Linked DNA regions of Homo sapiens. The protein of the gene in region 1 interacts with the protein of each later gene in a biochemical or structural test. Each region holds a gene or a part of one and is shown in the gene's direction. Other genes may lie near its edges.

The links.
Region 2: the proteins of STMN2 (region 1) and RGS20 form a complex in vitro, tested with the Homo sapiens proteins (one study listed by BioGRID).

Annotation. Positions count from the first base shown.
Region 1 is NC_000008.11:79,662,091-79,667,967, forward strand, and holds the end of STMN2 (stathmin-2), read left to right. Parts: intron 1-1,489; coding exon of another isoform or gene 1,490-1,571; intron 1,572-2,724; coding exon 2,725-2,784; 3' UTR 2,785-4,068; downstream 4,069-5,877. UniProt on the Homo sapiens protein: Regulator of microtubule stability. When phosphorylated by MAPK8, stabilizes microtubules and consequently controls neurite length in cortical neurons.
Region 2 is NC_000008.11:53,939,872-53,946,871, forward strand, and holds part of RGS20 (regulator of G-protein signaling 20), read left to right. Parts: intron 1-6,793; coding exon 6,794-6,877; intron 6,878-7,000. UniProt on the Homo sapiens protein: Inhibits signal transduction by increasing the GTPase activity of G protein alpha subunits thereby driving them into their inactive GDP-bound form.

The DNA of each region.
Region 1 (5,877 bases):
CCTTCCAGTAGAGAAATCTTTCTATGAAATCAGAGGAAAGAATTAGAGGACCAGAATTTTTCCTAAAATCAACTTTCATACATCTTTTTTCATATAAAAGGCATAGCTGCATACAATGCTAAAATATTGTATTACATTTCCTTTATATTGATGGGAGGAAGGGGGTAAATTGCAGAAAACATTGTAAATTTAGATATGCTTGGGCCTCTGACAGTGCCTAGCAAATATCAGGAGATCAATAATGAAATAAATATTATCAAAGAGTAGTCTTCTTGATGAACCTTCTCTGAGTATCACAACTGCTTTAGGAACCTCTAGATTCAAGGTCTAGTAATTGCAAACAGTGAGCTGATAAGAAAAACAGACTGTATGGGAAATTACATGCTTCCTGCATGACTGCCTTTTGTTCTCCCACATTTTGATATAAAGTCACATTAACAGTTCATGAGTAAATATTCGATAATGTGAACGTAAAGTGTTCAAATAATAGAGTGACTAAAATGCCTGAAAACAAATAATTTTTAATTAGAAACTCATAATCATTTATTTTCTCTTTTTCCACATTATCTCAAGCTCACAAATTATATTTATTCTTTCCTATGGCAAAATCCATTTTGTTAACACTAATTTTGAGTTTAACAAGAAGTGTACTCCAAAGTAGCCTAATAATACTAATTATAATGTTTCCTGCTATGTTATCAGTTTGAATTTATATGAATCTTTAGACTTGAGGCTTCTTTTTCCTAGCATAGTGATGGTCTGGGCTTTTTCTCAATTTTTGCCAGAGCTCAGCTCTCACTAATTAGTTTCTTTCTGCATGAGAAAAAGATTTTGCTTCATCTTTTTCCTTATAATAGCAGAACAAAAAGAAGAATCAGCTGCATCCATGCTAATTTCCCCTGTGACATTTCCAAACAGGATTTGATTTCTCTATGCATGCCTCTTTCCTTCTCTTCATGGTTTTTGAACATATACAAAAGCTCATTTAAACCAATTAAATAAAATTGTTTTTAATCTCTTTCTCTAGAGTCAACTTCCTGCTTACTCCAACTCTGTATCTTTGAAGGAAGTATAGGGTGGTCTATGCCTTTTTTCTCCCAGAATCTACACTTGAAAAGACACATTTTTCCATGCAACTATAAAATGTTCTCCTCACTCAACATTGAAATTGTATAGCAGTGATTAAGAGAGTGAGCTGTAGAGCCAGGTTCCCTGGGTTTAAATCCCACTTGTTAGTATCATGAAGATGGGCAAGTTACTTACCCTTCCTGTGTTTCAGTTTCTTCATCTGCAAAATGGGGACAATAATAGAATGTCCACTATAAGATTATTGTGAGGATTAAGGGAATTAATACAGGTAAAACGTGTACTGATGCAGGTCTGGTACACATTAAGTGCCTAATAAATATTCAGTATTATGATATAAAGAACCCTATAAGTGTAGACTCCTTGAGATTAATAGAGTTTAACGATAAGTTTTACTTTATAGCTGGTCAAGTTTATTTCTTCTGAACTAAAAGAATCTATAGAGTCTCAATTTCTGGAGCTTCAGAGGGAAGGAGAGAAGCAATGTAAGCAACATTCTACAGAAATATAAATAATACTACTAATAATTAGCATCTTAAAATTTCAATTCAATGAACATTTATTTAGCGCCTATGATATATGCAAGACAGTTTGATTTTAGTCATCTGATGTATAGCCACATACTAAAAAATACTGATTTTAGTCATCTGATGTATAGCCACATACTAAAAAATACTTCCTCCATCAGTTCCCTCCTCAGGAAGTTCAGTTCCCAATCCCAGGCTAGTACCTTGGTTCCTTATGTAAATAAACATCCACCAATTACATGCTATCTGCAAAGCACTCTGCTAGGCCCTGCAAATGGAAAAAAAAATGATAAAACATAGTCCAGGCCCTCAATGAGCTTACAGTCAAATATAATAGAGGAGACAAGAACAGAGAGGCTCATAATACAACTAGAATAAAATGACTGCCGAATAAAAGGAAAGATTTATGCAGGTGTTCAAATGGAAAGTGAGATAAGTTTGCAGGTTAGTCTTTGCAGTCTCATAAAAATCTTTATGGAGAAAAGGACAATGGTCATAGGGCTTAAAGAGTAAGTTTATAATCCTGACCAGTGGAGATGAAAGACTAGCATTGAAAATTGCATGACAAGACAATTCCATTAAACTGAAACATCAAGTGTGTGTAGGAAAAGATGGGGGTTATGACTGGAAACGTCACTTGGACTGCAATTATGAAGGGCCTTGACAAACAGGTCAAGAGTTTAAGAAGCAGTATAGAAAGTCTTCGTCCTGGATCTAGCCCTCCCAGAGTGTCCATCAGGATTATAAAGTCCTTAAAATATTAGTCAAAAGGAACGACATCATTAGAAATGATAGAGAAACAATAATGTGATGTTTTATTACCTTTCTCTGGATTTATACTCTGATCCTAATATTCAAAACTATCTTAATAACATGAACTTTTGGTCATAGTTTTAAACAAAAACAGTGTTAAATATATTTTTTAAAACACAGTAAGTCTTGTAAGATCTTTTCTAACATGACATTTTGCAGGGCCCATATTTTCCTTCTGAAATGGGAAAAATTCATAAAAGTAGACACCAAACTGGGTTACTTCTAGTCAAGCGCATGGTACGCAAAGGACCAGACAAAAAGGGCCTGTGACATTTCTTCTTCCTTTTGTGTTTTTTAGGAGAGGCATGCTGCGGAGGTGCGCAGGAACAAGGAACTCCAGGTTGAACTGTCTGGCTGAAGCAAGGGAGGGTCTGGCACGCCCCACCAATAGTAAATCCCCCTGCCTATATTATAATGGATCATGCGATATCAGGATGGGGAATGTATGACATGGTTTAAAAAGAACTCATTATAAAAAAAAAAAAACAAAAAAAATCAAAAATTAAAAAAAATCAATGCGGTCTCTTTGCAGAATGTTTTGCTTGATGTTTAAAAAATACCTTGGATCTTATTTTGTAAATACTTACATTTTTGTTAAAAAATACAAGTATTGCATTATGCAAGTTATTTCATAATCTTACATGTCCTGTAACAGGCTTTTGATGTTGTGTCTTTCCACTCAAATGAATTTGCTAGGTCTGTTCTTTTTGAAGCTCCCCATGTCTAACTCCATTCCAAAAGAAAAATGAGGTCAGTAGACAGTCTATGGTGCTAGAAACCCACCATTGCCTAATGACCTAGAAGGCTTTGTTGTCTCTGAGCTTGACTAAGACCATACCTAGATCACAGGTATTATGACTCCACATGAACCTTCACATTTGTTCGCTCATAATCTACTTACTGCCTAAAAACTACAAAACCAGGCTAAGAAATACCACCAGTCATAGCATTTACTTCTGCTTCTCCTGGATTATGTGCTACAAATGTGCTTTGGCTTTAGAAAGGGATGGATGAGAAGACAGACCTGAGACCAATCTGGGTAGAAGCAAAAAGTTGAACCTTTTAAAGTGCTGAACACAAATCCAAATTCGAATGGTTCAAGCAGCCGTGAAATCGCTCTTCATAAAGTGGGCTTAATTCTCTAGTTTAAGTTCTTTTGATGGAATGAATTAATTAATGTGTCAGGTGGCTTATTTGTGGATGCCATGATTGATGATGTTCATTTTAAGCTCTTACCTATAGTACAAGTACATGATGCTACTGAATATTTTTCCACTTGGAAACTGTGAGCTGGTTGTTGCATTAAAACACACATACAAACAAAATCAAAAACACTGCGGACTTTCACTCAAGCTGGTCTTTCTTCCCCAGTGTAAGGCAATCCTGCCTACTAACAACACCAACAACAAAACACTCCATCTGTGAAGCTGACGCAGTTAAGGGGGCTAGGCAGGGCATTTGTGCCAACTAAGAATCACCAGATACCCACCATAAGTACCTATCGCAGTTTTGAAGTCGTTTCTCCCCAACTCCCAACTCCTGAAGGTTGCTGCCTGCATATTTACTCTTCATTAGTGCTATTTTCCTGTATGTCATTGTGAGCAAGCTGTGATTAATAAAGAATTGGAGTTCTGTGAACTAATAAAGGTTTGGTCTGTTCTCTTGCCTCTTCATGTGTCTGACCCTGGAGTTCAGATTTTAAAAGGGCAGCCACTGAATTAGACAATCTCACAAGCAAAGAGATAATAAGGAGAGTTTGAAGGAAACCAGTGCCCTGCTGAGTCATTTCCCTTTGGGAACAGCAGGCCGCATCTCTTTTCTCTTGCCCTCTGATGGGCCAACACTGTGGGAGAGGTCTTCAATCTGCTCCCTTTAAAAACATACAGGACTGAACAAGATACCACAAAATGCAGACTGATAATTCTGAGGAAGTGAGCCCTTTTCAAAACATTGAAGGTTCCTGGCATTATCTCAAGTTCTCCCCTGTGGCCCACAGAACGCCTCCCCCAGCCTAGGCCGTCTGTTAAGATGTGATCCCTGACGTACTGCTGAATTTTGTACTGCCAATAAACACACTGCACACATGGGCGCAGCAGGGTCCTGTCAGTGACCCAAATGGATCTTACAGGACCAAAGGAACCACATCCAGTTTTAGCAGAAAATCATAAATAATTGAAACCACACAGATTTGTGAATAAGTACAGTGGGCTATGGTCCATAGGAGCTCTAACAAGCCAAGTTTAGGGTTGCGGCCACCTGGTCTCTATTTTGAATATCCTTTAATATTTGTGGGAATCTAATACTGCTACAAACAATGCCTGAGCTTGATGTGAAACACATGAGCTTCCAATGAGCATGAAATGAGTTGTCTCTTCATACTGGTTTTCTATAGCTTAGTTTGGAAAACATTACCCGAATTACTCATTGGGTCAGACCCTATGATAAGCCCTGGAAACATGAACATGAATGACCACAAGAAGCTCATAATCCAGTAGCTTATTTGGGCCCCAAAACAGCAAACATGATATGTTGGTCAGCCCTCTGCAGCATATTTGGGGAAAATGGATCATTTCTAAGAAGTTTCTGAAATATTAGAAATATTTGACAAACTTCTCATAGTACTTTGTATGAGAACTGAAACTGCTGACCAGTCCAGCTGCCTAATCTCAAAGATGAAGAAGCAGGCCGGGCACGGTGGCTCATGCCTGTAATCCCAACACTTTGGGAGGCCAGGGCAGGCAGATCACTTGAAGGGAGGAGTTCGAGACCAGCCTGGGAAACAAGGTGAAATATCTTTTCTACAAAAAAAAATACAAAAAGTAGCCAGGCATGCTGGGGAGTAACTGTAGTCTCAGCTACTTGAAAGGATGAGATAGGAGAATGACCTGAGCCTGGGGAGATCAAGGCTGCAGTGAGCTGAGATCACACCGCTGCACTCCAGCCTGGGTGACAGAACGAGACCATGTCTCAAAAAAAAAAAAAAAAAAAAAAAGCGAAAAAGCAGAGGAGGGAAAGGTGAGTGGTTGGCTCCAGACCACAGTGCCCACATCTCATGACTTCTTCTTCCCTTATTTGAGGTCCTCAGAAGAACATCTCCAAGTTGGGTGCAGCATATACTGCTTGGGTGATGGGTGTACCAAACTCTCACAAATAACCACGAAAGTACTTACTCATGTAACCAAATACCACCTGTTTCCCAAAAACCTATAGAAATAAAAAAGCAAAAAAAAATTTAAAAGAAAAATAAATAAATAAAAGAGCATAATTCACAATGGGGGGAAAAAAAGAACACCTCCAAACCTGCCAGACCAGTGAGGCCAGAGGGCCTCAAATGTCAGTGTGCTTCCAAGTTATGTGAACGGCTTGTTAAAAAGAGATTTCTGAGTCCTGCCTCCAGAGCTTTGGATTCCTGAGGTCTCTGGAAGCCTGAAAATGTGCATTTCTAACATAT
Region 2 (7,000 bases), about 26 Mb from region 1:
GGGACACCCAAGAAATAACAACAGGCTGCATCTGTCTAGCTCTCAAGGGGTTTATGCTCAGATCCCTCAAATCAGGCCAACGTGTGTTAAACAACTAAAGAACAACCTCAGGCGGTTCACGATTGACTATCAACATTTGGGCAGAAATGGTTAGAAAGAATTGGACTCGAGGCACTCCTGTGGTAATGAAGGCTTAGGATCTAAGATAGGTCTTAAAGGTTAGGGCGATGAAGTAGAGGGAGCCTGGATTTTACCTTCTGCTGCTTCCATTTCATAAATTTTGTTTTGTAATAAAGAGAAATGTCAAAATATGTGTTTTAAAGAGAGAGAAATATTAAAATATATGCTAACTTACTGGGTAGAGGAAGACACACAGACAGTCATTGCTTTAAAAAGGAAAGAAACGACTTGAATGTAAAACATCTGTGACCCTTTGAGTAGCTGTTAAAGGTCTGGAGAAAAGGAGATAATTTACACCTAAAAATCATGGGAACTTTAGGTTACATCTTTGGAATCTTGGATATGAAAAGTGCTTAGTGCCAGCCAAGTTTGTGAACCACTTTCAGCAATCAAATCATCCTAAATTTATGTAGGCTTGGCAGTAAGTTAGACCAAGACCTCACTGTCTGCTGGAAGAGAAGAAAAACTGATAATGGACTGATCACGAACCGTGAAATGGAACTAACAGAACTGATCCCTGGGGAGGAGAGTGGAGTTGAAAATGAAATGCCCGGGGAAGTTTGGTGGCTCCTGCCCAACTCAGGCTAGTATTCATTTCCAAGAAGTTCCAATCTGGTGGAAGGGACACAGCAATAGAACATCCACCAAGGGGATCCCGATACCGATGGTCTCTTCATTCCCACAGCAAGAGGAAACGTGGCCATGGGGCTGACAAGAGCTAGGCAGTGTCAAGGTGAGACTTCAGCCCCTGGTAGGAATCTGGACAGCTCTGCAGGAAGCCAGAGGAGAGGCGCTGGTGGTGGGCAGAGGAAACACGTGGGTGTCCAGGGCCTGCCCTAAAGGAGGAAGACACCAGTGATGGCCAGACTGCATTTAGGGGCCTATATTCTCACTCTGCCAGTAGGTCTCAGTGGGGAAATGAGACCATCCTCCTAGAGATGTGCAGGATGTCCAGGTGCAGGTGAGACTCCAGCTGACGTTCAAACCTTCCGCTCCCTCCTTTCTCTGCTGCCTCACGCAGGGTGTGGGAGGCGGCTGACATGCTGACCTGAACAACGTATTGTCCCGGGATAGTGTAAGGCTAGAGGGCGGGTCAGGTCCCAGAGCAGGCTCCTCCTACAGGTAACAAGTAGGACGAATAAAATAAGTATCTGTACCTAAGACACTATCATCACCATCATAGCCAACACTTCTGTAGTACTTAGGTGTGTGTAGAAGAGACAATAGAGCAATATCTTCAAAGTGCTGGAGAAAAGTAACTGAAAACTCCGTCAAACCATAATTCAAGAGTGTGGGTAAAATAAGACATTCTCAGACATACGAAGGCCAACCGAGTTTACTGCCTGCAAACCTAAAAGAACCGAAGAAAGGGCCTACTTCAGAGGAAAAAAAGGGAACCCAGAGGAAAGACTCAGGAAACAAGTAACAATCATAGATACAACGGGGTCAAATATTGATATAAAATGTGGCAATGAATTTTGTGTTAAAAAGTGTGAAACCAAAGCTGTAAACAATCTCATGTCAATGACATACAATCAAATAATTCAGACTTTCTTAGAAAAAATTATTAAAAGAAAATTTTCTTTCAAAAGTAATGTTATTCATAATTAGTCCAAAAATACACCCTATAGTTTTAACATCAGTGAAAGACAATAAATCTAGAAAACCTTACCAACACGTGATAAAAGTGACATCAGCAAAGGAGAAAATGAACTATTCAGTAAATAGCAGGATACTTGGTATTTGGGTACCAACTCATCCCCACTGATAGGACTTTCTCAGTTTTAGCACTGAAAGGTCCCATAGCCCAGAAAACCTGAAAACCCTAGGCAAACCAGGAAAATTGGTCATCCTGCTTGGTATCCAAATATATAAAAATGTATTTATATTCCTACATAGCACCATATACAAAAATCAATTCCCACCTTAAAAAAAAGATCAGCTGGGTGCGGTGGCTCACGCCTGTAATCCCAGCACTTTGGGAGGCCGAGGCCGGCAGATCACATGAGGTCGGGAGTTCGAGACCAGCCCTACCAACATGGAGAAAACTCGTTTCTACTAAAAATACAAAATTAGTCAGGCATGGGGGCACATGCCCATAATCCCAGCTACTCAGGAGGCTGAGGCAGGAGAATCGCTTGAACCTGGGAGGCAGAGGTTTCGGTGAGCCGAGATTGCACCATTGCACTTCAGCCTGGGCAACAAGAGCAAAACTCCATCTCAAAAAAATAAATAAATAAAAAATAAAACACAAAAATTAGCCAGGCATGGTGGCGCACACCTGTAGTCCCAGCTACTCAGGAGGCTGAGGTGGGAGGATCGCTTGAGCCCAGGGAGGTTGAGGCTGCAGTGAATGATGATTGTGCCATTGCACTCCAGTGTGTGTAACAGAGTGAGACTCTGTCTGAAAAACAAAAACAAAAAAAAAAGAAAAGAAAAACCTATACCCTGGAAAAACTTCTCACACCCCTGCAAAAAAAGGAGACATGTATGAGAAGATTCACTACAGCATTCATCTGAGTGAGAAAAATTTAAAATGGTTCTAAAGGGTATAGACAGGAGAATGGATGAATATATTGTGGTATAGTTATACAATCCACTACCATACAGCACTTAAATTCATATACTAGAAAAACAAAACTAAACAAATAAATAAGTTAGGCGTGGTGGCTTATGCCTGTAATCCCAGCACTTTGGGAGGCCAAGGCAGAAGGATTGTTTGAGCCCAGGAGTTCGAGACCAGCTGGGGCAACACAGCGAGACCATGTCTCCACTAAAAAAAAAAAAAAAAAAAGTTAGCCCGGCATGGTGGCATGTGCCTGTAGTCCCAGCTACTCTAGAAGCTGAGGTGGAAGGATCACTTGAACCCAGGAGTTCAAGGCTGCAGTGAGCTATGATCATGCTACTGCACTCCAGCCTGGGCAACAGAGTGAGACCTTGTCTCAGAAATAAATAAATTCATATGCTAGAGGGAAAAAAAATTATAAAGCAATACATGTTACATAATTACATTTATACTATGTTTAAAAATATGTTTATGAATATAATATAGTAGCATAATTATGAATTGGAATGGTAAACAGTAAGTTAAAAATGGTGGCTCTCTCTAGGGTAAAGAGAGGAAGAAATGAGATGGGGAAAAGTACACAGCAAACTTCAACTGTTTTAATAGTGAATTTCCTTGTTTTTTTTCACCACACTTTTGAGATTTATCCATATTAATATACATAGTCAAGTCAATTTTCAAGAAAAGTAAATGGCAATTTCTTTTCTAAGTACTTGTGAATCTTTCTCAACATTTTGCTGTAAGGCCTTCTGGTATTTAGTGTTATAAGGGAAGGCATGCTGATTCTTGTTCAGTTGAATATAAAGTTTTTTTCCTTTCTAGTAAGTTTTCTCTTTATCACTCAAAATTTTACCAAAATATATCTGGCCATGGGTCTTCTTTTACTGAAACTTCCTAAAACACAGCGAGCAACTATCTTGGCTACTATAGACATCTTCTAGGTCTGCTGTAACAATAACAGTGGACCGAGGTAAAGAAAACTTCACAAAAAAAAATTCTTCTCTTTTTCAAAACCACATTGTCTCTTTAAAACATTCTTACTTGAAATGAGGGAAAAAGTATATCAAAGCTGAAATAAGTTTGCATTATTTAGTTTGCAGTACAGCTTCTGGTTCTCTGAGGAACTCCTGTCAAATTCATCTCTTTTTTCCTCTGCTTTTTCATACCCACTGAGCAGTAATGTGTTTTGCTTACAAAAGAAGCCTCGGAAGTCATGCAGAGAGCGTACCACTCAGATGCCTCTCAAGTTTTTTTTGGTTGGATTTTTTTTTAAAGAAGCCATTATTTACTGAAACTATTTAGCCCTGACATCATGAAAGAAAGAAGTCAAAAGGGTTCCTGCATTTCTAATGATTTTGCCTTTAAAGAAAAATAGAGCTACACACACACACACACACACACACACACTGAAAATTTATAAAACAGTTGTGCTAAAAACAGGCTGAAAAACTTTTATAAAATAGTGTTAAGAAAAGATATAATAAAGAATATAGAAAATACAGTAGCAACAAGATAAAGAAAACCCAAATTGTCAGTGATAAAATCCATTTTCATGTTGATGGGATGCTGAAAGCATTCCTGCAAAAATCATGAATAAGGCAAAATGTCCACAATCTCTACTACTATTTAACAATGTATTTGGCCAGGCGCGATGGCTCACGCCTGTAATCCCAACACTTTGGGAGGCCGAGGCGGGCAGATCACAAGGTCAGCAATTCAAGACCAGCAGGACCAACATAGTGAAACCCCGTCTCTACTAAAAATACAAAAATTAGCTGGGTGTGGTGGTGCGCGCCTGTAGTCCCAGCTACTCAGGAGGCTGAGGGAGGAGAATCACTTAAACCCGGGAGGCGGAGGTTGTAGGGAGCTGAGATCACGCCATTGCACTCCAGCCTGGGAGACAGAGCAAGACCCCGTCTCAAAAAAAAAAAAAAAGTATTTTAGGTGTTAGCTAATTAGACAAGAAAATTAGAGGCCTGAGAATTGGAAATAGGTAAAATTCTTCCTATTTGCAGATGAAACCCGAAGAGAATTATAGCTATAACTGATACAAATACAGAAGAATTCAGAAATAAGAAGGATATAAAATTATCATTAAAATAATACTCTGTAGGCTTCAGGTCTTAAAATGAAGAACACTTCCATTTCAATAATAAAATGCAAATAAATCAATTTAGAAATGGTCAAAACATCTGAACACACATCTCTCCAAAGATGTACAAATAGCTAGTAAATGCATGAAAAGATGTTCCACATCAGTAGTCATTAGCAAGATGCAAATCAAAACCACAATGAAATACCACTTCTCACCCACTTATGAAGCTAGAATAAAAAAGACAACAGTAACTGTTGGCAAGGACATGGAGAAATTGGATCCCTCAAATATTACCATGTGAAATGGTGCAATTGCCTTGTAAAACAGTTTGGGAGTTCCTCAAAATGTTAAAACTCAAGTTACCATATGACTCAGCAGTTCTACTCCGAGGTTTCTACTTGAGAGAAACACAAATATATGTTCGCACGTACTTGCACAGGAATGTGCATAGCAGCATGATTCATGCAGCCAAAATGTGGAAACAACCCGAATGTCTATCTGCTGATGAATGGACAAACGAAATGTGATGTGTCTATCCAAACAATGAGATATTATTCAACTGGAAAAAGAAATGAAGTGCCGATACATGCTACGGCATGGGCTAAGTGCAAAAACATTACGCCAAGTGAAAGGAGACAGCCAGCAAAGATCACATACGGTATGCTCCACAACAGGCAAATCTATAGAGACAGGAAGCGGATTCGTGCTTGCCTAGGGCCGGTAGAGTGGGGAGATACAGGTGATAAGCAGTGACTGCTTACTGGTGGGGTTTCTTTTGGGGGTGATGACAATGTTCTGGAATTAGATAGTAGGGATGGTTGCACAACTTTGTGAGTATACTAAAAACCACTGAATTGTACACTTTAAACAGATAAACTTGACGGCATATGAATGATAGCTCAATAAAGTGATTAAGAAAGTGGCCGGGCACGGTGGCTCATGCCTGTAATCCCAGCACTTTGGGAGGTCCAGGTGGGTGGATCACTTGAGGTTAGGAGTTTGAAACCAGCCTGGCCAACATGGTGAAACCAAATACAAAAAGTAGCCGGGCGTGTTGGCACATGCCTGTAGTCCCAGCTACTCAGGAGACTGAGGCACAAGAATCGCTTGGTTGCAGTGAGCTGAGATTGCGCCACAGCACTGCAGCCTGGGCAGCAGAGCAAGACTTGGTCTCCAAAAAAAAAAAAATAGCATTCATATTACAACAATAACCAGTTACAAGATGAGATAAAAGTACAAATTCCATTTACGATAACAACAAAAATACTTGGAATAAGTTTACAGACAAATGTACAGAATGTGTATAAGAAAACAAACTCTTTAGAGAAATACAATAGATTTTGATTATGCACTTTATTTTTCTCTACTACTTTTGTATATTTGCCTATAAATATATGAAGCCTCCATTTTGACTGGAAACAAAGCCTAGAGGATGTATACTTTTTAAGATGCAGAAAATGAAATGAAACCCCAATACATTCCTGACAGTCTTACTTTTTTACTATTTTCATTTTTTTAATTTTTGTATTAAATAGAGACAGGGTCTCGCTATGATGCCCAGGCTGGTCTTAAACTCCTGGCCTCAAGTGATCCTCCTGCCTTGGCCTCCCAAAGTGCTGGGGTTACAGGCATGAGCCACCGCGCCGAACCCTTTTTTACTATTTTCTAATGAATGTTTTTATTTAAAAAATCATTATTCTAAGTATAATTGAACACAATAATTTCTAACTCTTTCTCAATAGTAGAAACCACAACGTTTATTTATATTTCTAGTACCTTATTGTCACACTTTTGGTTTGCTTGGGAAAACTAACTGGGGTCATTTTTTTTTCCAAGTAGAGGAAGAAATTCTATTAATACTTGGGGATCTGAAGTTCTCTTTAAAGTATTTGTAAAAAATCTTTTCTTGGCAGGGACTGAGCTGTCAACATGTGAATGTCTTTTTTTTGCAGTCTCACTGTTAGAAACCAGGAAGATCAGAGGCCCACAATAGCTTCCCACGAACTCAGAGCAGATCTTCCAACCTGGGAAGAAAGGTGAAATCACACGTTTTTTTTACCTCACTAAACTAACAGAAATACTAACCTCTTTCTTTTCTTTGCCTTGTATGTTTCAACAGAACACATACTTTCTCTAACTGTAATTTAGTAATATCCAAT